Regions from separate parts of the Homo sapiens genome. Here all the other regions are linked to region 2. Evidence: fine-mapped expression QTL. A gene starts in region 2. Each other region holds a variant in brackets. All regions are shown on one strand. Distances are between the middles of the regions.

Region 1 (10,604 bases), 510 kb after region 2:
TAACTGGTGTGAGATAGTATCTCATTGTGGTTTTGATTTGCATTTCTCTGATGGCCAGTGATGATGAGCATTTTTTCATGTGTTTTTTGGCTGCATAAATGTCTTCTTTTGAGAAGTGTCTGTTCATATCCTTCACCCACTTTTTGATGGGGTTGTTTGTTTTTTTCTTGTAAATTTGTTTGAGTTCATTGTAGATTCTGGATATTAGCCCTTTGTCAGATGAGTAGGTTGCGAAAATTTTCTCCCATTTTGTAGGTTGCCTGTTCACTCTGATGGTAGTTTCTTTTGCTGTGCAGAAGCTCTTTAGTTTAATTAGATCCCATTTGTCAATTTTGGCTTTTGTTGCCATTGCTTTTGGTGTTTTAGACATGAAGTCCTTGCCCATGCCTATGTCCTGAATGGTAATGCCTAGGTTTTCTTCTAGGGTTTTGATAGTTTTAGGTCTAACATGTAAGTCTTTAATCCATCTTGAGTTAATTTTTGTATAAGGTGTAAGGAAGGGATCCAGTTTCAGCTTTCTACATATGGCTAGCCAGTTTTCCCAGCACCAATTATTAAATAGGGAATCCTTTCCCCATTTCTTGTTTTTCTCAGGTTTGTCAAAGATCAGATAGTTGTAGATATGCAGCGTTATTTCTGAGGGCTCTGTTCTGTTCCATTGATCTATATCTCTGTTTTGGTACCAGTACCATGCTGTTTTGGTTACTGTAGCCTTGTAGTATAGTTTGAAGTCAGGTAGCCTGATGCCTCCAGCTTTGTTCTTTTGGCTTAGGATTGACTTGGTGATGCGGGCTCTTTTTTGGTTCCATATGAACTTTAAAGTAGTTTTTTCCAATTCAGTGAAGAAAGTCATTGGTAGCTTGATGGGGATGGCATTGAATCTATAAATTACCTTGGGCAGTATGGCCATTTTCACAATATTGATTCTTCCTACCCATGAGCATGGAATGTTCCTGCATTTGTTTGTATCCTCTTTTATTTCATTGAGCAGTGGTTTGTAGTTCTCCTTGAAGAGGTCCTTCACATCCCTTGTAAGTTGGATTCCTAAGTATTTTATTCTCTTTGAAGCAATTGTGAATGGGAGTTCACTCATGATTTGGCTCTCTGTCTGTTATTGGTGTATAAGAATGCTTGTGATTTTTGTACATTGATTTTGTATCCTGAGACGTTGCTGAAGTTGCTTATCAGCTTAAGGAGATTTTGGGCTGAGACAATGGGGTTTTCTAGATATACAATCATGTCGTCTGCAAACAGGGACAATTTGACTTCCTCTTTTCCTAATTGAATACCCTTTATTTCCTTCTCCTGCCTAATTGCCCTGGCCAGAACTTCCCACACTATGTTGAATAGGAGTGGTGAGAGAGGGCATTCCTGTCTTGTGCCGGTTTTCAAAGGGAATGCTTCCAGTTTTTGCCCATTCAGTATGATATTGGCTGTGGGTTTGTCATAGATAGCTCTTATTATTTTGAGATACATCCCATCAATACCTAATTGATTGAGAGTTTTTAGCATGAAGGGTTGTTGAATTTTGTCAAAGGCCTTTTCTGCATCTATTGAGATAATCTTGTGGTTTTTGTCTTTGGTTCTGTTTATATGCTGGATTACATTTATTGATTTGCATATATTGAACCAGCCTTGCATCCCAGGGATGAAGCCCACTTGATCATGGTGGATAAGCTTTTTGATGTGCTGTTGGATTCGGTTTGCCAGTATTTTATTTAGGATTTTTGCATCAATGTTCATCAAGGCTATTGGTCTAAAATTCTCTTTTTTGGTTGTGTCTCTGCCAGGCTTTGGTATCAGGATGATGCTGGCCTCATAAAATGAGTTAGGGAGGATTCCCTCTTTTTCTATTAATTGGAATAGTTTCAGAAGGAATGGTACCAGTTCCTCCTTGTACCTCTGGTAGAATTCGGCTGTGAATCCATCTGGCCCTGGACTCTTTTGGTTGGTAAGCTATTGATTATTGCCACAATTTCAGATCCTGTTATTGGTCTATTCAGAGATTCAACTTCTTCCAGGTTTAGTCTTGGGAGAGTGTATGTGTTGAGGAATTCATCCATTTCTTCTAGATTTTCTAGTTTATTTGCATAGAGGTGTTTGTAGTATTCTCTGATGGTAGTTTGTATTTCTGTGGGATCGGTGGTGATATCCCCTTTATCATTTTTTATTGCGTCTATTTGATTCTTCTCTCTTTTTTTCTTTATTAGTCTTGCTAGTGGTCTATCAATTTTGTTGATCCTTTCAAAAAACCAGCTCCTGGATTCATTAATTGTTTGAAGGGTTTTTTGTGTCTCTATTTCCTTCAGTTCTGCTCTGATTTTAGTTATTTCTTGCCTTCTGCTAGCTTTTGAATGTGTTTGCTCTTGCTTTTCTAGTTCTTTTAATTGTGTTGTTAGGGTATCAATTTTGGATCTTTCCTGCTTTCTCTTGTGGGCATAAATTTCCCTCTACACACTGCTTTGAATGTGTCCCAGAGATTCTGGTATGTTGTGTCTTTGTTCTCGTTGGTTTCAAAGAACATCTTTATTTCTGCCTTCCTTTCGTTATGTACCCAGTAGTCATTCAGGAGCAGGTTGTTCAGTGTCCATGTAGTTGAGTGGTTTTGAGTGAGTTTCTTAATCCTGAGTTCTAGTTTGATTGCACTGTGGTCTGAGAGACAGTTTGCTATAATTTCTGTTCTTTTACATTTGCTGAGGAGTGCTTTACTTCCAAGTATGTGGTCAATTTTGGAATAGGTGTGGTGTGGTGCTGAAAAAAATGTATATTCTGTTGTTTTGGGGTGGAGAGTTCTGTAGATGTCTATTAGGTCCGCTTGGTGCAGAGCTGAGTTCAATTCGTGGGTATCCTTGTTAACTTTCTGTCTTGTTGATCTGTCTAATGTTGACAGTGGGGTGTTAAAGTCTCCCATTATTATTGTGTGGGAGTCTAAGTCTCTTTGTAGGTCACTCAGGACTTGCTTTATGAATCTGGGTGCTCCTGTATTGGGTGCATATATATTTAGAATAGTTAGCTCTTCTTGTTGAATTGATTCCTTTACCATTATGTAATGGCCTTGTTTGTCTCTTTTGATCTTTGTTGGTTTAAAGTCTGTTTTATCAGAGACTAGGATTGCAACCCCTGCCTTTTTTTGTTTTCCATTTGCTTGGTAGATCTTCCTTCATCCTTTTATTTTGAGCCTATGTGTGTCTCTGCACGTGAGATGGGTTTCCTGAATACAGCACACTGATGTGTCTTGACTCTTTATCCAATTTGCCAGTCTGTGTCTTTTAGTTGGAGCATTTAGTCCATTTACATTTAAAGTTAATATTGTTATGTGTGAATTTGGTCCTGTCCTTATGATGTTAGCTGGTTATTTTGCTCGTTAGTTGATGCAGTTTCTTCCTAGCCTTGATGGTCTTTACAATTTGGTATGATTTTGTAGTGGCTGGTACTGGTTGTTCCTTTCCATATTAGTGCTTCCTTCAGGAGCTCTTTTAGGGCAGACCTGGTGGTGACAAAATCTCTCAGCATTTGCTTGTCTGTAAAGTATTTTATTTCTCCTTCACTTATGAAGCTTAGTTTGGCTGGATATGAAATTCTGCGTTGACAATTCTTTTCTTTAAGAATGTTGAATATTGGCCCCCACTCTCTTCTGGCTTGTAGAGTTTCTGCCGAGAGATCCACTGTTATTCTGATGGGCTTCCCTTTGTGGTTAACCCGACCTTTCTCTCTGGCTGCCCTTAACATTTTTTCCTTCATTTCAACTTTGGTGAATCTGACAATTATGTGTCTTGGAGTTGCTCTTCTCGAGGAGTACCTTTGTGGCATTCTCTGTATTTCCTGAATCTGAATGTTGGCCTGCCTTGCTTGATTGGGGAAGTTCTCCTGGATAATATCCTGCAGAGTGTTTTCCAACTTGGTTCCATTCTCCCCGTCACTTTCAGGTACACCAATCAGATGTAGATTTGGTCTTTTCACATAGTCCCATATTTCTTGGAGGCTTTGTTCATTTCTTTTTATTCTTTTTTCTCTAAACTTCCCTTCTCGCTTCATTTCATTCATTTCATCTTCCATCACTGATACCCTTTCTTCCAGTTGATCGCATCGGCTCCTGAGGCTTCTGCATTCTTCATGTTGTTCTCGAGCCTTGGCTTTCAGCTCCATCAGCTCCTTTAAGGACTTCTCTCCATTGGTTATTCTAGGTATCCATTCATCTAATTTTTTTTCAAAGTTTTTAACTTCTTTGCCATTGGTTTGAATTTCCTCCTGTAGCTTGGAGTAGTTTGATCGTCTGAAGTCTTCTTCTCTCAACTCGTCAAAGTCATTCTCCATCCAGCTTTGTTCCATTGCTGGTGAGGAACTACGTTCTTTTGGAGGAGGAGAGGTGCTCTACTTTTTAGAGTTTCCAGTTGTTCTGCTCTGTTTTTTCCCCATCTTTGTGGTTTTATCTACTTTTGGTCTTTGGTGATGGTGATATACAGATGGGTTTTTGGTGTTGATGTCCTTTCTGCTTGTTAGTTTTCCTTCTAACAGACAGGACCCTCAGCTGCAGGTCTGTTGGAATTTGCTAGAGGTCCACTCCAGACCCTGTTTGCCTGGGTATCAGCAGCAGTGGCTGCAGAGCAGTGGATTTTCATGAACCGCGAATGCTGCTGTCTGATTGTTCCTCTGGAAGTTTTGTCTCAGAGGAGTACCCGGCTGTTTGAGGTGTCAGTCTGCCCCTACTGGGGTGTGCCTCCCAGTTAGGCTGCTCAGGGGTCAGGGACCCACTTGAGGAGGCAGTCTGCCTGTTCTCAGATCTCCAGCTGCGTGCTGGGAGAACCACTGCTCTCTTCAAAGCTGTCAGACAGTGTCATTTAAGTCTGCAGAGGTTACTGCTGTCTTTTTGTTTGTCTGTGCCCTGCCCCCAGAGGTGGAGCCTACAGAGGCAGGCAGGCCTCCTTGAGCTGTGGTGGGCTCCACCCAGTTCGAGCTTCCCGGCTGCTTTGTTTACCTAAGCAAGCCTGGGCAATGGTGGGCGCCCCTCCCCCAGCCTGGCTGCCACCTTGCAGTTTGATCTCAGACTGCTGTGCTAGCAATCAGGGAGACTCCGTGGGCGTAGGACCCTTTGGGCCATGTGCGGGATATAATCTCCTGGTGCGCCATTGTTTAAGCCCATCGGAAAAGCACAGTATTAGGGTGGGAGTGACCCGATTTTCCAGGTGCCGTCTGTCACCCCTTTCTTTGACTAGGAAAGGGAACTCCCTGACCCCTTTTGCTTCCCGAGTGAGGTAATGCCTCGCCCTGCTTCGGCTTGCGCATGGTGCGCTGCACTCACTGTCCTGTGCCCACTGTCTGGCACTCCCTAGTGAGATGAACCCAGTACCTCAGATGGAAATGCAGAAATCACCCGTCTTCTGCATCACTCACGCTGGGATCTGTAGACCGGAGCTCTTCCTATTCGGCCATCTTGGCTGCCCTTTAATAGATGTTTTCATTGTGGAATGGATAAAGTGAATTATCATATGTATTACCTCACATAGTTTTATTTGTAATGAGAACATTTAAAGTTTACTGTTTTAGTAATTTTCAAGAATATAATATATTTTATTAATTATACCTACCCTAATATACAATTGATATCTTAAACTTATTCCTACTGTCTAACTGAAATTTTGTATTCCTTGACCAACATCTCCTCAACCATTCCCTTTCCGTAGCCTCTGGGAATCACCATTCTACTGTACGTTATAAGTTTGACCTTTTTTAGACTCCACTTATAAATGAGATTATGTAGTATTTATCTTTCTGTGTCGGACTTATTTTACTTAAAATAATGTTCCCCAGGTTTATCCATGTTTTTGCAAATGACAGAATTTCCTTATTTTTAAGGCTGAATAGTATTCCTTTGCATATGTATATATATACATATATATATATGCAAAAAACAAATATGTATATGTATTCGTTTATTTGTTGGTGGACACTTACGTTAATTCTGTATCTCGTACATTGTAAATAATGCTGAAATGAACATAGAGGTACAGATATCTCTTCAACATATTGATTCCAATTCTTTTGACTACATACTGAGAAGTGGAATTGCTGGGTCCTATGGTAGTTCTGCTTTTAATTTTTAGAGAAAATTCCATATTGTTTTCTGCAATGGCTGTAGTAATTCACATTTCCATCAACAGTGTGTAATGGCTCCCTTTTGTCCACATTCTTGCCAACACTTATTATCTTTCATTTTTTTTTTTTTTAACAAATGCTGTTCTAACAGGTGAGAAGTGATATCCCATTGTGGTTTTCATTTGCATTTACCCAGTGACTAGTGATATTGAGCATTTTTTTTTCATGTAACTGTTGGCTATTCATTTGCATGCTTTCTTTTTTTTTTTTTTTTTTTTCAGCTCTTATTGTAGGTCCGGGAGTTACAAGTGCAGGTTTGTTACATGAATAAATAGTGTCGCTGAGGCTTAACCCTGTCACCAAGGTAGTGAGCATAGTGCCCGGTAGGCAGGCAGACTTCCAAGCCATCCCCCTTTCTCCCCTCCCACCTCTATTGTTCCCATCTTTGTGTCCATGTGTATTTAATATTCAGCTCCTACTTATAAGTGAGAACATGTGGTATTTAGTTTTCTTTTCCTGCATTAGTTCACTTAGGATAATGGCCTCCAGCTGCATCCATGTTGCGCAAAGGACATGATTTCATTCTTTTTTATGGCTGAGTAGGATTCTATGGTGTATGTGTACCACATTTTCT[T/G]TATCGAGTCCATCGGTGGGCATTGATGGGCATCTTGGTTGATTTCATATTTTTACTATTATGAATAGCACTGAAGTGAACATAGGAGTACATGTGTCTTTTGGGTAGCATGATCTATTTTCCTCTGAGTATATATCCAATAGAGGGATTGCTGGGTTGAATGGTAGTTCTGTGTTCCATTCTTTGGGAAATCTCCATACTGCTTTCCACAGTGGCCAAGCTAATTTATATTCCTACCAGCAATATATAAATGTTCCCTTTTCTCTGCAACCTTGCCAGCGTCTGTTATTTTTCAACTTTTTAATAATAGCCATTCTGATTGGTGTGACATAGTATCTCATGGTGCTTTTGATTTGCATTTCTTTAATGATTAGTGATGATTAGCATTTTTTCATCTTTTTATTGGTTGTGTGAATGTCTCCTTTTGAGAAGTGCCTGTTCATGAGCTTTGTAGGGCGGTGATTTCTAGACACATTCCATGGTGTTCTGGAAGTTCCCTTATTAAGGGAGCAGTGTGTAGTGTTATGGGGAACAGTGCAGGTTGTGGAGAAATAGAAGAGGCTTCAGACACTCTCCCATTGCTCAACCAATGCTTAATATAAGAATTTTTATTTGCTTATGCTCTTACGTAAGTATGTAAACAAAAGTTTTCAGGGCCAAAATGATTATAAACCACTGGAAGAAAAAGGAAGCTGTAAGATTTTGAAAAAGACAAAATCAGGTGCAATTTGAGGAAACTACTCTGAATTCCAGAATAGAGTATTAGTCTCCAATCTGAAGTGGCTGTTCCCCAAAGTATATTGGATTGAATGGGTTGTTGTCAACTGGCACCATCAGCTCCAGTATCTTCTGAGGCTGGGAAATACATTTCTTGGAATTGCCTTCTTAGTAGAGTAATGTTTTAGAGTTTTCTGAGGAGAGGAACTTGGGGAAATTTAGAAGGTAGAGGTGAAGCAAAAAGCATCATATGCAGAAGGTCCTGGGGTGCCCAGGGATGGTCCCGCACAGCAGTTTTCTGAGAATTCTGTAGGAGCTCCCACTTCACTGTCCTTATTTGTGGTCAGTTCTACTGCTTCTGAGACTTACCTGCAAACTCCAACTCAGCATTTCTACTTCAAGCTGAAGCTGTGTTTCTCTAGTCCTGACTCTCCCCTTCTAGACCCACCTGTGCTTCCTAGCTTCTCAGGTAAGCTGTAATTCTTCAATGACTCCTCCAATGCTTGTAGCATCCTTTATCTTGACAGTACACAGGATGATACATGTATGTGTCAAATAATTCATTGAATGGGGAAGATCATCTTAGAACTTCTATTTACGTTTATCTTTTAATCTGTCCATTTAAACATTTTTAATGTGTATAAACATCTTATTATATATATATAATAGCAAAAAAATGTGCATACTTATAAAGAAATCAATGTGCAGGTATGGAGGTGTGTGCTCAATGTTTTCACTCACAGGGGTGTGAAGTTTTAAAAGTTTGGAGAATAGTGGTAGAAAAATGACCTTGGGAGGGAGGACAAAACTGAAGACAAAACATTCCATCCGTAGGCTATTACAGAAGTAGTACTGGAGAGAATTTATGAGCATCTGAAGTAAGGCAGTGGCAGGGGCAGTCCTGATGAAAGTGGTATTTAGGATGTTAAATAATAGGAAGCAGCAACTGATAGATCACCTTTTGAGGAGTCAAAGAGAAGGACACTTTACACAGCTTCTATGCTTGCAGTTTAGCTGCTCCCATTCACAGTGCAAAGGCTGCTGAGTTTTTTATTTGTTCTTCCCAGGTCAACAATTTAGAAAAGCAGCCAGTCCACCAAAACCAAGTAAGGTTTATCTCAGGAACGTGAGGGATGATATGAGAAAAACACTCTCTCAAATCTATCTTATAAGAACCTTAAAAGAAAATGATTCTAGGAGCAAAAGCTAATTTTCTACCCAAATTTTGTCTTGGCTTTTAAGTTGGCTTGGCCCAGAAATGGCTTACATCACCACCACCACTTTTTTTTCCTCACACTCTTTCTGCTCCTATCAGTCGAATGTAGACAACAATAAGGACTTAGGAGTTAATACGGATACAAGGTGGAAGGAGTCTGGGTCCCCGAATTACCTTCTGGAGGAGAGCCACCTGCCTTTCTGTAATATGACTAAGAAGTAAGACTTCCATTCTGTTGGACGCCAAAATATATATCAGTGTAAGCCAATATAGCTGTGTAGTCTACCTTAAATATGACAGGGATTATTATAATAGGAGCCCCAAAGTATGCAATAATAGTAAATAATCATTGCTGATACAAACTTGTGGAAAACAGTTACTTTCTTAACAAGAGGTCCATGGACTTCCAGGGGGTCCATGAACAGAATAAAATTTGGTTGGAAAGAAAATTACATTTTTATTTTGGCATTCCTTTCCATTATGAACACAGGCAACAAATCAAGTGTTATTGGCAGTTCTTGTGACTTGTCACCAATAGAAAACACAGATTTTTCCCCATCATATTACAGCTGTTGCAGATATCTCATAAGGTCATTTCTCCTTGTCACTAATTCAAAATTATAGCAGCATTAGACTGCTGTTCAATTTTGTAATTTAATGCATTAATAAAAAGTATATATGTCACAAACTTTAAAAATGTTTTGACAAATGTGTTTCAAAATAATTGAGTTTTTAGTAACTATATATATTTTATGCATTTAAAAACATAATTCTGAAAAGGGGCCCATGGCATAAAAAAGGCTAAGGGCCCCTGAAAGATATTTTTTCAATGTAGCAAAGAATAGCTAATGTAAACAAGAGTTGCTGCTTCCAAATTTTATATTTCTAGTTTGAATAATAACTAAGATGTAATAAAGAAACAGAATTATAACAGTTAAAAAACTCATAGTATTTCTTAAGTGCCAGAATAATATTAAATAATTTGTAATAATATAATATGATAAAATAACAAAAATTAAAAAAAACCTGTGCATATCTGTGTATGTTTGGACATATGCACATACATGTTTGTAACCTTTTTTATTGAGGGCAACCATAGCCATTATACCCATTAAGACTTCTTTTGGGATGTTTCTTTCTAATTCATTCGTACAATCACTTTATAAATAGTAGAATTCAAGTTAAAGTATTTACAATATTCTTGAGCTTCACCAAACCATATAAGCAGGTGTTAATAGCCACTTTATTCAGGAATCATGCTGGGGATTGCAATACTAAAATTTTTAATTTCGTCTAAATTTTATTAGCCTAAAAATATACTAGTGCACTTTTTCTAAATCCAGAATTCAAAGGCTTCTTGAACTTTTAGTTTTCAAACGTAGGAGAACATACTCTGAGCCACCTGCCATATAAAGACTTGTATTATCAAGCCTTTTCATTTATGACTGTGGGATACCTAAAAAAATCATTTATCAAAATCACTTTAAATCATGTTCCAATCACTTCCTTATAATCAACAGGCCCACCCTTCAATAAAATATCCAAAAGCCATTTCCAAAAGTGAGAAGCTTGACCAGTGATTTTCATGAAGCAGTAGGGCATGAAAGATTGGAACTTTCATATGAAAAAGACTTGAGTTTGGATTCCTAGTCCATTACTTAGAAATGTTGTGAGCTTAAATAATTTACTTATTTTTTTCTGAGTTTCGATTTCCTCCTCAGGAACTGGAGATACTATCACTTATCCCATACTGTTTTTATGACTATTAAATGAGATACAGTACTTCTGTAAATTTTAACAGTAAATGCATGTGAAAAAATGGTTAATTTCCAATCTCCTACTGACCGTAAATGGAATCATGACAATAGATGTGAACAGTTTGACTTTTGCGAAGACCTAGCAAAATCTCTATGGAGGGAACTATTTTGCACTAATGTAGGACTT
Region 2 (10,604 bases):
GTGAGTAGCCCCCGGAGTGCTCATTCAAAAGCCACTCTGCTCTCCCGAATGAGAATGTTTAGGAGTGAACTCTGTCATGAGCAGGCATCCAAGTGATCCTCCCCTTCAAGGATGTTTGGGAATGGTGGTCTGCACAGTCTCTAACAGATCTTCCAACTCCAAAACTCCTGTCCCGGCTATGTCTGGAAGGCAGTGACTCCTAACTATTCCTGAGACCCAAATGGCTTTGCAAGTCTTACAACAGCTGTGGATGTTCTGTTTAGTAAAAACGTATACAGACACAGAACTTCAAATTCAGTTGCAGGGTCTGTGGCTTTTGATTAAGAATTCCTACTTTAAGGTTAACCCTTGAAAGAGAATGTAAGCATTCACTTGAGCCAGGCATGAAGCAGCTGCTCACTAAAGGTCAGTTATTATGCTATTTCTGTGTCTCAGCTTTTCTATGAAATTCTCATATTGTTGTCTCATTGTATAGGTGAGGACACTGAGGCATAGAGAGATTAACATGCATTGTAAGTTGTGGCTGAATTTGAACTCAAACAGTCTGATTCCAGAGCCAGTGTGAACTTAAAATCTGGGCTGCCTGATAAAGTGGTTATCAGTTTTGCCTACTTGAATTCATGGCACTTTCTGCTCCTAATATTTCTGGCCACTTCCCTATACCTCCTTATATTAGTCATAATTAAGTAAGCAGCTACTATGGTATGAGGCCACCACTTCTCCTGTTGTCCTTCCCAGTTTCTCCCCAACCTCCCCTTTTCCCTAGTTTATAAGACAGGAGAAAAGGGAGAAAGCAAAAAGTTGGAAAGAAACAGAAGTAAGATAAATAGCTAGACGACCTTGGCACCACCACCTGGCCCTGGTGGTTAAAATAATAATAATATTAACCCCTGACCAAAACTACTGGTGTTATCTGTAAATTCCAGATGTTGTATGAGAAAGCACTGTAAAACTTTTTGTTCTGTTAGCTGATGTATGTAGCCCCCAGTTACGTTCCTCACGCTTACTTGATCTATTATGACTTTTTCATGTAGACCCCTTAGAGTTGTAAGCCCTTAAAAGGGCCAGGAATTTCTTTTTCGGGGAGCTCGGCTCTTAAGACATGAGTCTGCCGATGCTCCTGGCCAAATAAAAAAAACTCTTCCTTCTTTAATCTGGTGTCTGAGGAGTTTTCTCTGCGACTCGTCCTGCTACACTACTATGTGCCAGGAATGCTACACACATTGTCTCATTGAAAAATGTCCTCAGAAAATGATATACAGTATTTTTTATTTTATTTTATTTTTTTTGAGATGGAGTTTCACTGTTGTGGTCCAGGCTGGAGTGCAATGGCAGGATCTCGGCTCACTGCAACCTCTGCCTCCTGGGTTCAAGCAATTCTCCTGCCTCAGCCTCCCAAGTAACTGGGATTACAGGTGCCCGTCACCACGCCCGGCTAGATATACATTATTAATATACATGTTGAGTCCTAAGTAAAGACAGGAAAAATTAGGAAGGTAAATATATCCTAAGGCTCAGAAGTTTTTTGGATTGTTGCTTCTTTGGATAATTTATATTTCATTATATTATCAGAGAACTAGAGATAGAGCAGAAACTGAAGATTTTCTAGTTCAAATATCATTCTCCTAGAGACCAGTAGAGAATAGCAATAAATAGTTATTTGTAAAGATTAATTAATTCATTCTAGAGTCTTATGAAGTCTATCAGTGGTTTTGTCCCTATTTCCAGCATTTTAATGTTGATCAGAAGTGGGCTGGCTCTCTTTGCACTGCTAGGCAGAGCTACTGTTCACTGAGCAGGTGCTTTGTGCTGGCGCTGTGCTCAAGCACTTTACGTGGATTATTTAACTTAGCCACACAACAGTATCAGAACTTCTTATTTCAGATACCCCTTTTAAGCAAAAAACTTCAAACAGAGATCTTGTCTGATTTCATGGCTGCACATTTTCCAAGTAGGAAAAACACACAATTGAGGAACATGCCCAAGGCTGCTCAGCAAGCACAGGAGAGAGAGTGGGGTGGGGAGGGAGAGATCACGTGCAAGCAAGCAAGCACTGGGGCAGAACCTGTACCCTCCTGATGATTCTCAGGCCTGTCTGGGTGGCATCACTTAGCAGGCTGGCCCAGCCAAGATCACACGCACAGCAGCAGGATTTTAAATCACAGGGGATCACATGCTCTACTGACTGAAACCAACACAAAAAAAGGTCTAGGTCCATTTCATGTGAGTGAGACCCAGAGGTGCTCCTTTGCTCAGCCCTACCTGCTGGTGCAAGTGGCTGTCCCAAAGTGCAGGCCCCACCACAGCTCCACCCTGGGACACCAGATTCCCTGCCACCATAGAGGGAGTAGCAACTGAGGTAGGGCACACCTAGGTGGGGCATCCCATATAACCTTTTCTAGGTTGGCCTTGCCCAGTGTGACGTAGCCAGCCAGGTAACACCAGATCTGAAATACCCATATGTGCAGAACCCACTGAAGGGGTGGGGTGTCTAGACCTTAAGAGTGTTGGGCTTGTTGTCAGTGGAGGGGTGGAGCAGTCTTCTTGGCCCTGACCTCACCTTAATAGAGATCCTCCCATTTTGGCCTTGGAGGTTTAATATATAGTCACGGAAGTGTACTGAAATAGTCATAAGAAGGAATGTTCTCCATACAACTTTAAAGTTGTACAGTGCTTTCTGCAGTGAAATGAATTTTTTCACGGAATGGATTTTTTTAACGAGTCTTGAAATTAACATGTGAGGAGCAGCATGACACATTACCTCGTGTGTGTGTGTGTGTGTGTGTGTGTGTGTGTGTGTGTGTGTGAGTGAAGGCCATTTGTTAAATGGAACACCTAAAAATACCATTGTTTTTGTTTTTGCGGTTGTCAGGGGCCTCAATAAATGCAAGCTGGCTCAGGAGATGCTTGACCTCAGAGGTCTGGAAAGACAGATTAGAAGTCTCAGCAGAGGACCAAACCCAGACCCCACTTCTGCAGAAGTTCTGTACCCAGGTTTCCCCACTGCAGGCATAACCAGCAGCCCCTCAAAGGCCCCAGACCAGCCAACTGTCTTTAGAAATGCAGACCCAGGATCAGCTTTGCTACCAGCCATGGAATCTTGGGTCAGTGGCCCATACTCTGAGCTGTGTTTCCACAGTGCAAGGCTGGCCGGACAGTGTTTTATTTCAGAGTTCTCCTGTCTGTGGCATCTTCAGAAGTTAAAGATTTGCTTGACCACTATAAGGTGCCCTGGGAGTGTAGACCTCCCACATCCCAGCTGCCTGGCTGGCAGTGGGTGGGGAGTAAGCAGTAGAGAGAGGACAGGTGGCCCGGAATCTAACAGCTTGCCTCTGGATTCTCCCTAGTAAGCTTGGAATGATGCTGGAGCAGCTCTGGGCCGAGGGGACCAGTCTAACGCTGGACGCAAAAGACTGGGCGCCACCTAGTCTGTTCATCAGGTATTAAATGCCCTGAGTTTTCAAAGCTCTGGTGATTCAGTAGTGGACGGGTAAGGTTCCTGCCTCTCCTGGGGCTTACCGTCCAGGGGTGGGGAGGACGTCACTATATGAAATTATCTTATTTATAGCTTAATGTCATTATTTAAAAAGGGGGAGGGAATCACTTGACGGGTGGGCAAGGTGGGGACGGGGTTGGATGGAATGGTCAAAAAAGGTCTTTCAGAGTTCTTCCAATCCTGAACTAACTCACCTGCACCCTTGGCCCAATCATTTTCACTCCCGAGGGTCTGCACTCCTCGTTTCTACATTGGTTTTCTAGGAAGAAAGGGGTTGGACCCTCCCCTCTTTAAGCTGGGTGGGGTCCGAATCCCGTGCTTCTTTCACTTCCTGAGCCGGGCTGGCTGGGTGGGAACAGGCTCCTTGCCGCCTCCCCAGCGCTGGCCACTACCACACTGCCGCCCGCCTGGGCCTCCTTTCAACCTCGTGGTGGAGCCCTGCGGTTTCCCAGCGGAGCCGGGCCCGGGGCTGCTCCCTCGCGGGCGAGGCTCACCTGTCCCGGCCCGGCCCCCTCCCGCGCCCCAGGTGGTTCAGGGCAGGGAGGAGCCGCGCCCCGCCCCGCGCGGTAGCAGCCAACGCCGGCCCCAGGCGGGTGCGCTGGGAGCCTGGGCCGGGAGCCGGGTGAGGGCGCCGAGAGGCTCGGTGGGCGCGGGCGGCGAGGTGAGCTGGGCCAGCGCAGCAGGCGGGGGCGGTGGTGGGTTCGGGACGGCTCACCCCGCGCCGGAGCGAGTGCGGGGCCGCGCGACTGCGGCGGGAGATGCGCTGCGCCCCTTCTGGGCGCGCTGGGGCAGCCAGGAGCTCGCGGGGCCGCGGGGCCGCGGGGCCGCGGGGCCGCGGCGCAGTGGCGGGGTCGGGGTCTGGTCGCTGCCTCGAGGCGAGCAGCTGCCAACATCTGGACGGGACGGGAGCAGGGGGCCGGGGCAAGGCTGGAGCGGTGTGGGTCTCTAATCGTCCAGAGCCCTGCGGGGCCAGTGACTTCGGCAGAGCCGAGGGGAGAGGAGATACTGGGGGTCAAACTGCTGGAGAGAGCGCGGAGCTGGGGCTGGGGTTCAAGGCCGATCGTGGGGCCAAGAGCGAGCGTGCCAGCTCCAGTGTTTCCCCCTGCAGCGCTTCACGCGCGACCAGCTTGGGTGCCGCCGCTTCCCTTGCCCCGGCTCTTTACTTTTGTTGTTGAATAACCTACCTTACACATTGGTTAGTTACCTGGGGCTTCTCAAAAGCCGGGTCTGGAGGCTGCTCTGACTCCAGGGGGCTTGGGTTGTGAGGCTTCAGGTCTGTATGCCCTGTGGCGTTTGGGGGGAGCTGGTGGGTGGAGGGGTGCTGTCCACCTCCCAAGGCCAGGGGATCAGAGAGTGGGAAAAGTCTAGAATGCTATTTAAATTCCAGTAACTAGCTGTGTGACCTTGGGCAAGTTACTGAACTGCTCTGAGCCTCAGTTCCCTTAAAGTAAAATAGGTATTATTAATATTATAATCATTACAACAGACTTAGGTTATATGATGTTCATGGAGTACATAGCATACTGCTTGATTTTTCCCCCTTTGTGTTGATGTGGTGATGTGTGTGTTGTGGGGTGGGGGCATTCTTTCCCACCCTGACTTGTTCATGGTTAGGCTTCCTCCAGGATGCCTTACTTGCTGACAGCATCACAGAGGCCAAGATTAGGGCTGCCAGTGCACGGGCCCTGCAGATGGAGGGGGTGTTGTCAGACTGCCCTCATCATTACCCATCGTATTTGTCAGAATTGTTTTCTTTGGGTTGGGTTTTGGTCACTTGAAAATTGCCTTATACTATGTAGAAATTGATTGGGTCACATAAATGAAAAGGTCGAGGGTTTCAGTTTAAAGCTATAGCTAGTTCCAGAGGCTCATACAAGGTTCCAGGGCTAGTTCTCTCTCTTGTATATCTTAGCTGTTTTTCTCTCTGTGTTTACTGGTTCTTAGTATGGACGATAAATAGGACTTGCACCTTCAGGCTTATCTGCTCCTTCAGAGAGAGAGACAGAGACAAAGAGGGAGAGAGAGAATCCCATCTTCTCTATCCGTATAGCAGTCTCTCTCTGTCTCTCTCTCTCTCTCTCTTTTTTTTTTTTTCTTTTGAGACAGACTCTCACTCTGTCACCCAGGCTGGAGTGCAGTGGTGTGATCTCGGCTCACTGCATGCAACCTCCACCTCCCAGGTCCAAGCGATTATCCTGCCTCAGCCTCCCAAGTAGCTGGAGTTACAGGCGCCGGCCACCACGTGGGACTAATTTTTGTATTTTTAGTGGAGATGAGGTTTCACCATGTTGGCCAGGCTGGTCTCGAACTCCTAACCTCAAGTGATCTGCCCGTCTTGGCCTCCCAAAGTGCTGGGATTATAGGAGTGAGCCACTGCACCCGGCCCCTTATAGCAATCTTATTGACATACTGGACCAAAACAGAACCAAGCCATCTCAGCAGACAGGGAGAGGTTTACACAACAGGAATGGGCACATGACCGACTGTGATTGATAGACTGGCCCACCTCTGCTGCAAGGCATGTCGGTAGGGGGCGCAATTCCCAATGAGAAGTCTGACAAAACAGGACATGTTCATTTTACTATCTCTGTCTTTGCTCACCAGCGCCTAAAGGTAGTCTGCAGTAGAATGTAGACAGCCTGAGGGCCGTATTCCATCAGTCAAGTCTTCATCTAATGCATGGAGGGCATCCTGTGTGTCCATCTTTTCATTCATTGTTTTTTGTTTATTCATTCATTCGACATATAATAAATGCTCAACATATGCCAGGGCCTCTGCCAAGGGCGAAAATGCTTGCTTTTGAGAAGCTCACAGTCTAGTTGGAAAGACAGATATGAGGATAACATCGTCTAGGACTCATCTGTCTGGGGACGTAGTGAAGACTCCCCAAAGAAACTGTAGTTGAGCTTTGAATTGAAAATGAGCTCCAGCCTGGGCAGCAGAGCAAGACTCCGTCTCAAAAAAAAAAAAAAAAAAAAGAAAATGAGAAGGGCTGGTCTAGGAGAAAAATTCTAGGCCATGTGGTAGGATTCCAGAGGGACACTTTTTGTTGTAATATGTTTAGGTTACTCTACTTTCTTGCTTAGAACATCTGAAGGTAGGTCGTTCGAAGTGGCCACAGCTCTTTGGTGGCTTCTAGAAAATTATCTTCTTTTTCCAGGGTGACTAGAGCTCCATCATGCCTTCACATGACAACATCCAAAGCAGAAAAAAGAAGGCCGGGGCTTGCTGCTTAATCTTTCTCTAGATAATAAAGGACAAATTTTCCCCGAAGTTCCCCGCGTCACTGGCCAAAGTGGTCTAACGCTTACCCTGAAACCAGTCATTGGCAAAGGAGAAGAGGGGCCCATGATTGTTTTGCCCAAGCTATTTTCCGGAGCTGTAGGAGGGGCTCACCTACCTGAGCATCCATGCTCCATGTCTGAACACAATCAGAATTCTGTTAGCAAGGAGGAAAGTGAGACTGCCTGTTGGGCTGTTAGGTAGGCAACAAACTGTGTCTCCCAGAGGTGGGGACAGGTGATGCAAGGTCTGGCACAGATTGGTAATCAGAAGTCCAATACCATGGGAGATGCCTAGGGTGTGGCTGAGGGGAGGAAAGGAGCTGAGGTTGGAAAAGTAAGTAAAGACAGGACTACCCTGTATTAGATTCCATGGATGTCACTAAGAAGCATAGTAAATCTTGGTCCAATTCCTCAACAAGCTTACACCTGAAACCTGGAAAAGCTTCTCTGAGTTTTCCATACTCCCAATAGTAATAGCAACAGTGGCTCACTCTATGGTGGCAATTCTCAAGGGGTGGATTGGGGTGGAGGAGTTTCAGAAGAGTTTCAAACCCTGTGTAGTTTGAAAAGCCTCACATATGATTTTGCTGGGCACCCACTGCCTACCTTCCCCGGAAACTCCCTGTCCCTCTCTTGAGAACACTTAGTTGCTCTAAATCATGACTTTGTTTCAGTATTGTTAACTGTCTTCAAACTAACAGGCTGGGACTTGGTGAAGATGCAATTAATGGTAGATCCTGGACTAGTAAACAATTCTCCTGATGCTAAGTCCAAAGAGCGATAACTTTGGTAGTTGCATTTAGTAGGAAACCAGCCTCTACCATGAACTGCTTTGAAATCATGTATCCTATTTTCATCTGAAATGTGAAGTGAGTGCTGCACTTTGTTTCTGCTTTATATGGTAGACATTGGTGGACATTGGTGCTGGACTTTTGGAATCAGATTGGGCAACCAAGGATGCCGCTTCTCATGATCCTCTATCCTCAATATCTAGTTAGCAAAGAAATTGGCAAAAAGACATGATCACTAATGCTGGAAGAAAGCAGAAGTGGAGGGCAGCATATTTTCCTGTTTTCAGCAACAATACTGCCATGGGCTGGCCAGGATCACTGGAAGAATGTGAGGGAATGAGGTAGAGAGAAATGCCTTGGGCAGTCATTTATTTCACAAATATTTATTGAGCATCTACTGTGTGCCAGACACTGTTCTAGGTGCTGGGGATTGGAGCTTACAGTCTACTAGATGGAGACATTTATTTATGTTTTGTCTAATAAGTCAGGCGGTGAGAAGTACAGAAATAAAAAATAAAATAGATCCAGACAAGAGTGCAGTCATTAGAAACAAACTGGATATAGTGCTGGAAATCATGGCTTATTCTCTCTTGTTTCCAGCAGAGCTATATGGTCTAAGCAGGTAGGGTTTTGGGCAAAAAGGACAGGTGTTCATGTGGAAAAAGACAGTTAAATGTTAAATAACTCAATTTTATAGGATTTCTTTCATGCAGAATTTCTTTGATTGTTTGTTATAACTCACATTGTTCCTAAATATGATTTATAATGACTTACAAAAACATGGTACCAGGTCATGAGAAATAAATGTAGAAACATGAGCAAAGGGAAAATAAGGGTCATTTCTTTCATCATTATGTTCCAGAATTGTTTAGTTTTGGTAGCAGGGAAAGGAAGAAATACGGTGGTTACAAATGTGGTGATTCATGCTCAGGGTTCATTATTTAAAAGAAGAGAAAATAAATTTTGATGCCTCAGGAACTTGTACTTTCTTTTGGTGTTTAAAGAATCAATTTTATTTGATAGAAAAAGTGGTCTCTTTACTAAGGACTTGTATGAAATTTATCTCCTGAATTCAAAGAAAACTAACTTCTTTTGGGTCAATATAAAGTACACCAAAAGTTAACAGATCAAAAGTCCAATTCCAAAGTTAAATAATATGCTACAGATACAAATTGATGAGAGGTTATGTTTGGACCCATTACTGCCTGGAAAAAACAGAAACGCAAATAAAATTTTAAAGTGTTGAAGTGTTTTGCAGAGGTAATTTTAACTACTTGCTTTTATTGAGTTTTCTTGTTGTTCAGTACAATAATTTGGATATAAGTCTTGTGTCAGAAATGTAATTTGTAAATTACTTCTCCCAGCGACTGCCTTGTCATTTTTATTCCCTTAACAATGTCTTCTCAGAGCAAAAGTTTTAATTTTGATAAACCAGTTTATCGATTTTTTAATACATCCAACTTTTATTGTTGTATTGAGGAATTCTCTAACTAACCAAAAAGTCTTGAACATTTCTATTTTCTTCTAGAAGTTTCATGTTTTATGTTTTACACTTAGGTCTATGATCCATTTTACTTTAATTTTTGTATAAGGGATAAAGTATGAGTCAAAGGTATTTTCTTTTTGGTATGTGGGAGTCCAAATGTTCCAGCACCATTTGTTGAAATGACTGTCCTTTCTTCCCTTGAATTGTCTTAGAGCTTTTGTCACTAATCAATTAGCTAAAATGTAAGGGTTTATTACTAGACTCTCAATTCAGTTCCATTGATCTGTATGCTTACTTCATGCCAACACTACAGTATCTTGATTATTGTGGCTTTAGAATACATTTTGGAAGCACATAGTGTAGGCCCTCCAACTTTATTCTTTTTCAAAATTGCTATGACTCTTTTAGTTCTTTTGCCTTTCCATATGAATTCTAGAATTAGTTTGTCAATATCTACAAAAAAATCCTCCTAGGATTTTGAATGGAATTGTATTAAATCTACAGATTAATTTAGGAAGAATTGACATCTTTACATTATTGAGTTTTCTAGTTCATGAGCAGGGTATAACCATCCATTTATTTAAGTCTTTGATTTCTTCCATCAGCACTCTGTAGTTTTCAGGATATAGATCTTGCACATATTTTGTTAGATTTATACTTAGGTATTTCATTTTGGGGATTGCTGTTGTTGCTGGTATATAGAAATAGAATTTATTTTTGTGTGTTGGTATTGTATTCTGTGGCCTTGCTAAAGTTACTCATCTGTTTTAGGTGGGTCCTTTGTAGATTCTTTGGAATTTTCTACATAGACAATCATATTATCTGTGAATAGAGACAGTTTTATTTTTCCTTTCTAACCTAAATGCCGTGTCTTTCTTTCCTCCCTCCCTCCTTCTCTTCCTCCAACTTATTGCACTGGCTAAGAATTGCAGTACAATGTTGAATAGCAGTGATAAGAGAGAACATCCTTACTTTGTTTCTTATCATGGAGCAGGCAGCAATAAATCTTTCACTGTTAAGTATGATGTTAGTTGAGGTTTCTTGTAGATACAATATGATGTTAAGAAATTTCCTTTGTACTCCTAGTTTATTGACAGTGTTTTTTAAAATTATGGGTGGATTTTGAATTTTATTGAATGCTTTTTTTACCATCAACTGACAGAACCATATGAGTTTTCTTAATATTTAATATGGTGAATTGCACTGATTGATTTTCAAATGTTGAACCAGACTTACATTCTCTGGATAAATTCCACTTGGTTGTAATGTATTTTTGGAGGGGACTAGGTAGATTGGTATTATTTATTCCTTCAGTGTTTGGTAGAATTCTCTAGTGAAACCATTTGGTCCTAGAGTTTTCTTTGTTGGAAGGTTTTTAACACAAATTTAATTTTATAAATAGATATAGGACTATTCAGATTATCTATTTCTTCTTGATAAGTTTTGTTAGTTTCTATCTTTCAAAGATTCAGTCCACTTCACCTAAGTTGTCAAATTCATTGATACAGAATTTTTTGTGGTGTTCTTTTATTAGCCATTTATGTCTG
Region 3 (10,604 bases), 110 kb after region 2:
GAGCAGAACTTACAGCAACATAACTACTTTAAAACAAATATCTTATTCAAATTTGCCGTGTTTCAAGATCAAGGGGGCCATGAAATAAATTGGATGATTATTACAGACTTAAAGAAGAGAACTTGTTTATCTTAGAGAAGAGAAGGCAGAGAGAGGCCCTTAAGTATTTGAAGATAGGTAATATGGACATAGTTGTGAACTCCTCTCCATTTCCCATGAAAATTAGAGACATATGTCTTACATTTGTTCAAGAAGGAATTAGGTTAGACTATAAGAAGAACTTTCTAGGGACTGGAAAAGCCCATGGGTGGGAAGAAAAGAAGACTCACCTCTTTTTAAAATTTCTTGCTTCCTTCCTTTTTTGTTGTTGTGTGGGGGTGGATTTTTTTTTCTTTACTGGAACTGAATTCCAGAAGTAATTTATTGGCCTGACACCAGGCTGTGTATAAATTCACAAACGTATATAACCTGCTCCCAGAGGACCATGTGCATGTGGGAGGGATTGGACAGATTGTTCTATATTTCCTGGGTGACAGGCTGTGGTGGGAAAGGGCTGGGGACCCTGAGTGTTTGGCTTGTAGCCTACACCTAACACCAGCTTTTCTTGGTCAGTGCTGGTGATGCCAAGGCAACGAGCGAGCTTGTGGTTCAGCGCTTTGCATGATGTGGGGCTCCCTTAAAGAACCAAAGTGTGGGGAGAGTGCCTTCAGGGCAGGGCTGCTGGGAAGTGGCAGGGCGAGGAGGCTTCCTTCTGTCCCCATGATTCCCTCACATAGGGTAGTGCTAAGCGAGGTCCAGAGAAGGTAAATGGGAGAAGTCTCATAAAGAGTTGAACTTGTAGGAATCAGGGGTGCCCGTTCAGCATGGCAATTGAATCCTTGATCCTCAGGGAGTTAGCTAGATCCGACTCACACCTGCTGGACCGTGAGAGCCAATGTCCCTCCCACACTCTTAGATTCAAATAATCTCTTTAAGCTTATCCTTGCATTTAGAATGCCAGTACTTTTGTAGCATTGGTGTTGTATTCCCCACACTGGCTGAAAGAAGGTTTTCCCTCACTTTTATGATTGGGTCACCAAGGAAATAAATGCCTGGTGAATTTCCACAAAATCCAGCATCGTGGCATAAATTCTTTCTCTCCATCTTGAATTTTCTTTCTCCAGAGAGAAAACTTTTCTCCATTTGTCCCATCTTTGATCGTTCGTTAGGCATAAAAGGAGAGAGGAAGCTGCAGTTTGCAAAAATAAACACTTTAGAAGGGATTTGGCCAAAACATAAAACAATGTTTACATTTCCCATCTGCAAATTTTATGATAGAGGCACATATTTATTTGGTGCCTACTGTGTGCTATAGGTACTGATAGATAACAGTAAATAAAGTCCCTGTTCTCATGGAACTTACCTTCTAATGTGAGAGGCCAACAAAAATCATCAGGTGGTGGTAAGTGATGAAAAAAGCACTAAAACCAGGTAAGAAAATAGAGATTGATAGGGTAGAATATTCTTTAGATAACCTGGTCAGGGCAGGCTTTTGTGACTAAGTGACGTTTGGGCAGAGAGCTGAGTGAATGCAGGGAGTAAGCCATGTGACTGTCTGGGGCAGAGCATTCCAGGAAATGGGAACCATGCGTGCAAAGTCCTGAGGCAGGGCCACAATTGTACTTGGTGCATCCGCGTGGAGTACAGGGGGGAGAGAAATCAGGGAGGTAGCCTGATTTAAAGTTGTTTGGTGTGTCTTTTCATCTTCTGTATTTTTTGTATATTTTCTATCATTTTGTTCTGTTATTCTGGAAATGTCGTTAGGAATTACATAGCAATGAATCAGATTTGTAAAGCCATTCAACATTTTGCATTCCAAGTGAATTTAATGGGTCCATAGTTTCTGAATTACTGATATATTGAATTTTTTCTGCCTTGTTATTTTGTATTTGTTATATGAAATCTTTCTTACTTTTTTTCTTTTTATTTACTATTAAAAAAATTCCAACCTCCTGTTGGATTATCAAGTTTTCTCTTATTCTTCTTTTACCCCCTGTACCTAATTGGAAGCTGTATTAATTTTAATTTCCCAGGGCAACTATAACAAAGTAATACAAGCCGGATGGCTCAGAACAACAGAAATTTATTGTCTCATAGTCCTGGAGGTTAGAAGTCTGAAATCAAGGTGTCAGCAAGGCCATGCTTCCTCTAAGATCTGTAGAGAAATCTTTCTTCTCCTCTTTCAAGCTTCTGGTGGCTTGCTTGCAGTCTTTGGTGTTCCCTGGTTTGCAGCTGCATAACTCGAGTCTTGTCTGCACAGTGAGTTAGTAGCTGCTGGAGAGAAAATAGTACTAATTTGGAATTCTCACACCTGTACGGTTATAATAGTTAACTGATAACATCGAGACTTGGTCTGCTATCATTTACCTTATGGATTCCTGTATATGCAACCCTGCCCATGCTGCATATTAGAAACTTCTGCTCAGCTTTTAAAAAATACTGGTGTTCTGGCCAACTTCACTTAAGACCAGTTAAATTCGAATCTTGGTTGGCGTGGCTCTGGGCAATGGCGTTTATTAAAAGCTCCCCGGGTGACTTCATCACCCAGCCAGGATGCAGACCCATCGTGGGGAGACAATCTGGACAAATGTGTATTGAGCGCTGGCTGAGTGCAGCCAGCCCTGCACTGGGCTTGGGAGGTGCACCCGAAGAAGACCCATGGAGCACCCATCTTGCTTTTTCCAGGAATGGGGTCCTGTAGCATTTATTGAGGGTCTTACACCAGGGGCTCAGTTAATATTTGTTAATTGGTTGATTGAATTGCAGATCACTGATAAGGGGCCTGGGATACGAGTGAAAGAAGTGTTGAGTGAGAAGGGAATTGGAGAGTGCCAGCCAAGTATTAAATTAGGGGAACAGGACAGGAGATACCGCATCCTTAAAATGCAAACTTTGTTTTTGCCACTTTCTTTTGTGTGTGTTGTATATAATGCTTATCAACCTCTCCCCCCATAGACAACTTTTTCTTATCTCCTGTCTTTAAAAAAAAAAGTTTTAATTTTAGAGACAGGGTCTCACTATTTTGCCCAGGCTGGCCTTGAACTCCTGGTCTCAAGTGATCCTTCCATCTTAGCCCCGTGAGCAGCTGGGACTACAAGTGCATGCCACTACGCCCGGTTTCCTGCCCTCTTGAACTAAGTATTTTTTTAATCGACTTTTTCCTTCTTCACCTGATTACAAGCTACGTATCTTAATTGTATTCTTTAGGGAGTAACCTTCGTTTTAGAAATTAATAAACTTTTACTTTAGAATAGTTATAGATATATGGAGAAGTTGAAAAGATAGTACAAAGAGTTCACATATACCCCACACTCAGTTTCTGCTATTATTCACATCTTACATCAGTTTGGCACATTTTTTACAATTAATGAGGCAATAATGATACATTATTATTAGTTAACATGCATAATCATTCAGATTTCCTTAGTTCTTTTCCTTTTGTCCATTATCTCTCCCACTATCCCATCTATGATATTACATGTATGCACTACACTTTCAAAAATATGCATAAATCCATTTATTTCCCAGCAAAGTTTAACTTAATTGGCAGCTTTCTATTTGTATAAGATGAGACCATTAACACACTCTAATTCCCCTTTGTTTTTCCATCTCAACTTCTTGGCTCGTTGTATGTAAATTTTGGTTCCAACTTTTTTTTTTTAGGACAATGAGTTTATGATCTGGGCAGGGACCTTCGGTGAGAAATGGCAGTTCTTCTTGGTCTTCCTATGCTGAGGATGTGAGAGAAAACTACAAGACTACGCCATGTTTTTACTATACCGTTTGAAAAGTTTAGAAATTTGTGTTCTAACATTGCAACATGTGACGCAAAAAAAAAAAAAAAAAAAATCACACCACCATCACCCTAAAACAATGACAAGGGAAATTAGCTATGGGTGACAATAACTTGTCTTATCAATCTCAGCAGATCTCTCCTTCCAATTGTCTCTTCTGAGGAGCATAAAGACAGAATCATCACGAGATGCAGTAAATAACCCCCACAGAGTTTAATTGTTTTTAAATTGCAATTATAACTAATTAAATGCTAAGATGTGAACAGCTGCACAAGAATATTTAACAGATTTCTTGGCATCATCCCCACTTTTAATATTACTTTTAAAAGGCTAGCTATGGAAATAAGTAGTGAGTGGTTATTTTATGCTTTTCACATCAGAAACTGAAAAAACAACCTGAAAGTTGGCAAAGAAAGGATTCTGTGGTTTTTCTAAGTCTCTCAAGCCAGTGGACAGCCACGGCACTCAGCATAATTGGGTAAGTGTGGTCAGCAAGTCCTGAGAGATGAGATGAGATCAGTTCAAACTGCATGATAAGGGAGGTCTTTGTGGTGGATTCTTTCATCTAACATACATATATTCAGCTTTGACTGTGTACTTATCATTGTGTTAGAACTGGGGTCCCAGGGCAAAATAAATGATGACTTCTGCCTCAGAGGGGCTTATAGTATGATGGTGGAGATGGTCTGGTTCATCAGTGGCTTCAGCTTAATGCAGAGGATGGCAAACTATGGCCTGAAGCCAGCCTGCCAGTTTCTGTATGGCCTACAAGCTCAGAATGATTTGTATGAAGAAAAAAGAAAACAAGAATGGGGGTGGGGTCTTTGGGCACTGACTTTTTTGGCATTTCTGTCCAAAGTAGAGCCTCTATCTGGCCCTTTAGATGAAAGACTAGTTTTTTTTGTTTGTTTTTGTTTGTTTGTTTGTTTTCGAGACAGAGTCTCCCCCTGTCACCCAGGCTGGAATGCAGTGGCGTGATCTTGGCTCACTGTACTTTCCACCTCCCAGGTTCAAGCGAGTCTCCTGCCTTAGCCTCCCAAATAGCTGGGATTACAGGCACCCGCCACCACGCCTGGCTAATTTTTGTATTTTTAGTACAGACAAGGTTTCACCATGTTGGCCCTACTGGTTTTGAACTCCTGGGCTCAAGTCATCCGCCCACCTCAGCCTCCCAAAGTGCTGGGATTACAAGCATGAGCCATGGTGCCTGACCAAGACTAGTAGTATTTTGTAAGTAAGGATCACAGCATACTCATGAGGCTAGGACAGCAAAATCTTACTGGGGAAATCAGAGAAGTCACCCC[C/T]AGAAGAGGAGATACTATAGGAACAAACATTTAATGGCTTTTCCACTTGACGTGCCTTCAAATACAGCAAATTTCACATCTTCCACCCCTGATTTGTATTGAATTTGTTCTTTCCACTGTTCCCTATGAAACGTGGTGTCAACTGCTCTACTTGTTACTGCCCATTGATTGTGTTCCTTACTATGAAATCTACGGATGGGGCTTCAGAGGTCCTGAGAACCCCCTAAACTGAGAGTGTACAGATTCATATGTGCATATTTTTTCTGGGAAGAGGGGTTCATAGCCTCGCTCAGATTCTTTAAGTGGTCCGTCATTTGAAAATGTTGAGAAACACAGTTTTAAATTAGGCTTCTTGGAATTAAAATCAGTACCACTGATGGTGGGTTCTGACTAGAGCAGATTCAAGCAGAGGGATTATGAGTTTCCTTCTGTTAGTCCAGGTCAAATTTCCAATAGCTTCATCCATTCACAGCATATTTAGAGAGAAACCCTTCTCAAACTACTGGATTGTGTGCTTGGACGATACATGCAGTTGCGCTCTTGAGGGGACCTGGGATATTAGAGGATATTTGCCTGGATGCTCAAGAGAGCAGAGTCTGAGAAAAAGATTAAGATACTAACAGTTTACTTGGAAGACACAAGCCCGGGTGCGAGAGTGAGGGAAAACAGAAGTGAGACACAGGGGAAGATACGGTGAACACACTGGGATGCTTTATTGTGCTGACTGATGCCTTCCGGCAAGCCTGAAGAACCACATCTGTCTCTTCTGCAACTAATGCAGGAGGGTCACAAGGAAGGGCCACATGTTGAAACAGCCCATAGAAGAGAGAAAGAGGGGGTGGATGGATCTGCCAGCCTCCCTCCCTTCTCCCTTTTAACATCAGCAAAATTTTGTCCTATGAGCAGCTAATACTACTTCACTTGAAGTTGGCATCCTCCACCCCTCAGAGACTTCTCAGGAAGCTCTGTGGTGTGGTATTCTGGTCAATGCAAAACAGAGTGGTGACCCAGTGAAAGTGAGGGTGCCAGTCAAAAGAAAGAGAAATAAAAGCAATGCTTTAAGGAATCTGGGAAGGTGCACAAGGTTTGTTCCTCCTAGTAGGGGAGGCAGCAGACCTCTGAAGAAACAACAGGCAACAGTTGGGAGAAAGGAACTTCTGGGCAGAGGAAACATGTGACCGGAGGTGAAAACTGGAGAAGATAAGGTGTGCAAACTAGGGCAGGGAAGAAGACAGTTCTGCTGAGATAGTGTGTTCATGCCTCCATCTGCATGTCCATCTGATATTCATTAAGCTTCTATTCTGTGCCAATGACAATATGAGTGAACAAAAACAGAAATGGTCCTACCCTCGCAGAGCTTACAGTGCAAGAGACAGATATTAATCATGTAATTATACAAGCACGTGCAAAATTGCAATGACGTGGCGTGCTCATGGGGGAATGAAGAGTGGACTGTTCTGTGAACCTTTATTAGGTGGAGTTAATCATGGTGAGAGAGGCCAGGCTCTCCAGGCTGAGTGGTGCATGCACTGAGATAGACAGGAAGACTAAGAGTTAATAGCAAGTGAAAGGGAGGAAGGGGCACTGTAGGGGGGGATGCCATATCCAGAGGCTCTGCGGAAGGATGGAGCATGGCAAATACGAACCTCAGAAAGAAGACTGTGTGGCCAGAGCCAACAGAGGATGAGGGAGAATGGCAGGATGGGAGGTAGGCAGCAGGGCTGGGCCACGCCAGGCTGTGTGAAAGGAGTTTGCATTTGTCTGAGGAGCAGTGGGAGCCTTTGGATGCATTTATGTAGATAAGTATTATAATCAGGTTAGGGGTCATTTGGGAAGACCCAGTAAAGAGAACCCCTAGATATTAAAGACCCTCTCAGTTTAGACAGTCTTGGCCGAACTATGGCTATTGGGGGCCACTCCTCAGAGACCCCAAATATTAACAACCCCAAGGATGTGTGAAGGAAAAGCAACTCCAGGAGAATTCCGATAGTAACAAACAATAGGCACTGGAGACTTTAGGGGCTGGTAGCTGTGGGATTAGAAGACCCTTGCGCTTACCTGCCGGAACATATTTCAAACACTGTAGAATCTTCTACAAATTTTATTATTTTTTATTTCTTCACAACACTGTCAGGGCACAAGAAAGTCGAGGTGCACACATGGAAAGTCTAGAATTGAATCACGAATACGGGTGCCCTCCTGAGGCCTCATCCCTCCAGTGGGATTGCTGGGGATGGTCAGGTGAAGGGCTCCTCCCACACAGTCTAAGACTCCAGGGCGGAGAAGCACAACCCCAGCTTCTCAGCGGTTCCCAGAGCGTTGACTCAGATTCTCTTTGAGCCTTGCTTTGCCCAAGGCCCTGATGTCTACTCTGCTTCCAGGAGGCTTGGGGGTAGTTGTGTGGCCTCAAACTCTACGTGTTCAAAAGAAAACAAAAACAAAACAAAAAACGAAGCAGAAATCCATGGTGAAGCAATTTGAGGAGGAAGAGCTATTATCAATCCAACTACTAATTTACCTTTAACTTGTGATAAAGAGGGTAACCCAAGTCATTAATCCAGAGGAGGGTATCTCTGAAGGACAGGCTTTTCTGCCTCTTGAAAAGCTTTGAAAGGAATTTAAATTAATTCTTATCTGATAAGGATTTATTTGTGTATTGTGACTACCTCCAGTCAGATCATACTGTGTGATGCTTTGTTTGAGGGTTTGTTTGTTTTTTTGTTTTTTGTTTGTTTGTTTGTTTGTTTTTGAGATAGGGCCTTGCTCTGTCACACAGGCTGGAGTGCAGTGGCACAGTTTCAGTTCACTGCAGCCTCTACCTTCCAGGTTCAAGTGATTCTCCCCCTGCAGCCTCTGGAGTAGCTGGGATTACAGATGAGCGCCACCACGCCCGGCTAATTTTTGTATTTTTAGTAGAGACAGGGTTTCACCACGTTTGCCAGGCTGGTCTCGAACTCCTGACCACAGGTGATGCACTCATCTTGGCCTCCCAAAGTGCTGGGATTATAGGTGTGAGCCACTGCGCCCAGCCTTGTGTGATGCTTTGGTGTGACTATAAGAAGCTTCAAGATTGAGTAGGGCAGGCTTGGCTGATTGGCTGATTGCAAATTTATGCACATGGGCCTGTGTGTGTGTGTGTGTGTGTGTGTGTGTGTGTGTATAGTCAGAGATGATGGTAGTCATGTGTTCTGAGCTATGGGTAGTTTCCATTCTTCTTCTGTTTTCAGGATATTTCAAGATGGCTGTAGGAACAAGTTTCTCTTGACCCATTTGCCTGTCAATTCAGTACACAATCAGGCAAAGGAAATATCTCTATGCAATATTCCAGTGCCTCCTGTTCTATGGAATGCCCTGCATTTTCCTTTCTGAATTGAGCAGCTGCATGTGAAAATTGATTTAACATGTCAAATCTTGGATATTTCTTCTAAAAGCTTTTAGGTGAACCCTTGCTTAGTAATTCTAAACTGTGTTACATCTTCCCAGGGAAAAGAAATGCAGGACTTCACAGTTGGATTTGGACAAATTGGAGGCTTTTAGGAAAGTCATAAAAGTGATTAAGGGCTGGAGGGAGTGACTGACAAGAGATTAAAGGAGTGAAATTCGGATCTTTGCCAAACTACAGATGTTGGGGGAGCAGAGGGCAAAACACTTAGAAGATCATAAAATGCTGGGGAAGGAAGAGGGGCTGTTTCAAGGCTCTTAACCTCTTTTTGGCTCATGGACCTTTTGCAAATTCATAGTAGCTCTGAACCATCTCCTTAGAGGGATGTCCAGGCTCATACATTTTTGGCCTGTCTCTTTTCTCACTCTAGTTTCCAGACGTGTGGTGTTATCACGTAAGTCAGAAATGGCCAGCCCTTTTGCTTTTTCAGTAGAAGTTAGAAATATAGACTTTAGTGTGAATTTTTCCATTTAAAAAACTGTGCTGGCCAAATTAAACCCCTCTCTGTGCCCTCTAGATTGCCAGTTTGCCTCCTCTTGTTGAGGGCAGTGCTGAGGAAGGCTGGATGCAATGGCTCACAGGTGTGACACGAGTGCTTGGCTGACTGCAAAGAGTAGGATTATGGGACAGTGGACGAACAAGTGTTTTACAGACTTCTACAGCCTGCAGTCTTATTGAGCAAACAGTAGCTGCAACACTGAATCAAATACATACCTGGAAATGATGCTAAGTGCTGTGAAGAGGTGGTGAGTGCTGTGTACGAGGGAGAGTACCCAGGGAACTAACCGAAGCAGAAGGGGGCATGGAAAGACCTCTAAGAAAGCAGCTAACCTGAAACCTGAAGGATACATTGACAAGGGGTGCGGGGAGGAAGAACATTCCAGGCATTTGGAGTTACGCAAGAATGACCAGAGTTCTATTAGGTTGATGAAAAAATAATTGCAGTTTTCACCATTAAAAGTAATGGCAAAACTGCAATTACTTTTGCACCAACCTAATAGAAAGAACTTGAACATTTATGTGTCTTCACATGTTATTTTCTTCATTTACAGGTAAAAACAGAGCCCGAACCAAGAAACTAAGCTCTCTTGAAAGATTTCCAAGAGTTAATTTTGTGTGTGATTTTGTATGCTATTTTTCTTTCATTCATAGTTTATTGAGCATAAATTAGTCTCCTCCTGTACTCAAATCCTACACACACACACACACGCACACCCCTATGTCCTGTCTGCATAGTAATTGCTGGCCCTATTCATCTTAGCTGATTTTTCAAACATTCAACTTAGATTTTTAAAATTACTACTGAATGCAAATCCCTGTAAAAGATACAAAGGAAGTACCTGCCTTTGAGGAATTTATATTCCAAGCGGCCAGGGAAGACTTCTGCACAAGAAACAAGAATGTATCACATGCACCATAACGTGTGTTCCTTGATTAAATTCTTTTCTCACCCTCCCCGACCCTGCTTCATTCCCTGTGTATAACCTCCCCTACTTCTAACTGTAGAAGAACATCTTGAACTTTCCTTCATATCGTCTATCCTCAGAAAGTATCCATGAATCAATCCTTCCCCTTTCTTTATCTCCATGCAACCTCTAAAGGGCATATAATAGAAGCCTTATGATCCACATCCTTTAGTCCTGCTCTGTAGAGACCACCTTCCTTTATTGTTGTAGCTGTTTCTTTTGGTATTGACCTCTGCATTTCTAAATAACATGCGTATACCACTCTTTCTTGTCTTATCAGTTTGGGATGTTATCTATGACCTTTTGTTATATCAAAAGGCTCTAGTTAAATTAGTGGTAACAATTGACATTATTATGATTCTGCAATTTTGCCACTGCTTACCCAACATGTACTGTGATCACCTACTCCCTTCTTGTATATCTTCTCACTGTACCTAGAGGTTATTATTGACTGAGCATATGTAAACCTCATTGCTATAAGCAGCTTGGAGCCCTGAATCTTCTTGCGTTAATGTGGATGGGTTGCTCTGTATGCTTGGTGTGGAGCTGTTGTATTGCT

The links. PIP is the estimated chance that this variant, and not a neighbour inherited with it, causes the effect.
Region 1: its variant is fine-mapped to the expression of LYPD6B in testis (GTEx, PIP 0.95).
Region 3: its variant is fine-mapped to the expression of LYPD6B in testis (GTEx, PIP above 0.99).

What each region holds. Positions count from the first base shown.
Region 1 is chr2:149,545,781-149,556,384 of GRCh38, forward strand. No RefSeq gene overlaps it. Among named protein-coding and RNA genes, the nearest start is that of MMADHC-DT, 36 kb to the right of the region's middle. The variant T/G (reference allele first, on the strand shown) is at 6,728.
Region 2 is chr2:149,034,645-149,045,248 of GRCh38, forward strand. LYPD6B (LY6/PLAUR domain containing 6B) reads left to right here and starts at 4,055. Exons shown (of 7, transcript NM_177964.5): 1 at 4,055-4,157. RefSeq lists enhancers at 3,125-3,184, 4,398-4,447, 4,488-4,547 and silencers at 3,808-4,147, 4,158-4,317.
Region 3 is chr2:149,139,646-149,150,249 of GRCh38, forward strand. All of the region lies in intron 2 of LYPD6B (LY6/PLAUR domain containing 6B), which reads left to right. Among named protein-coding and RNA genes, the nearest start is that of LYPD6B, 110 kb to the left of the region's middle. The variant C/T (reference allele first, on the strand shown) is at 5,138.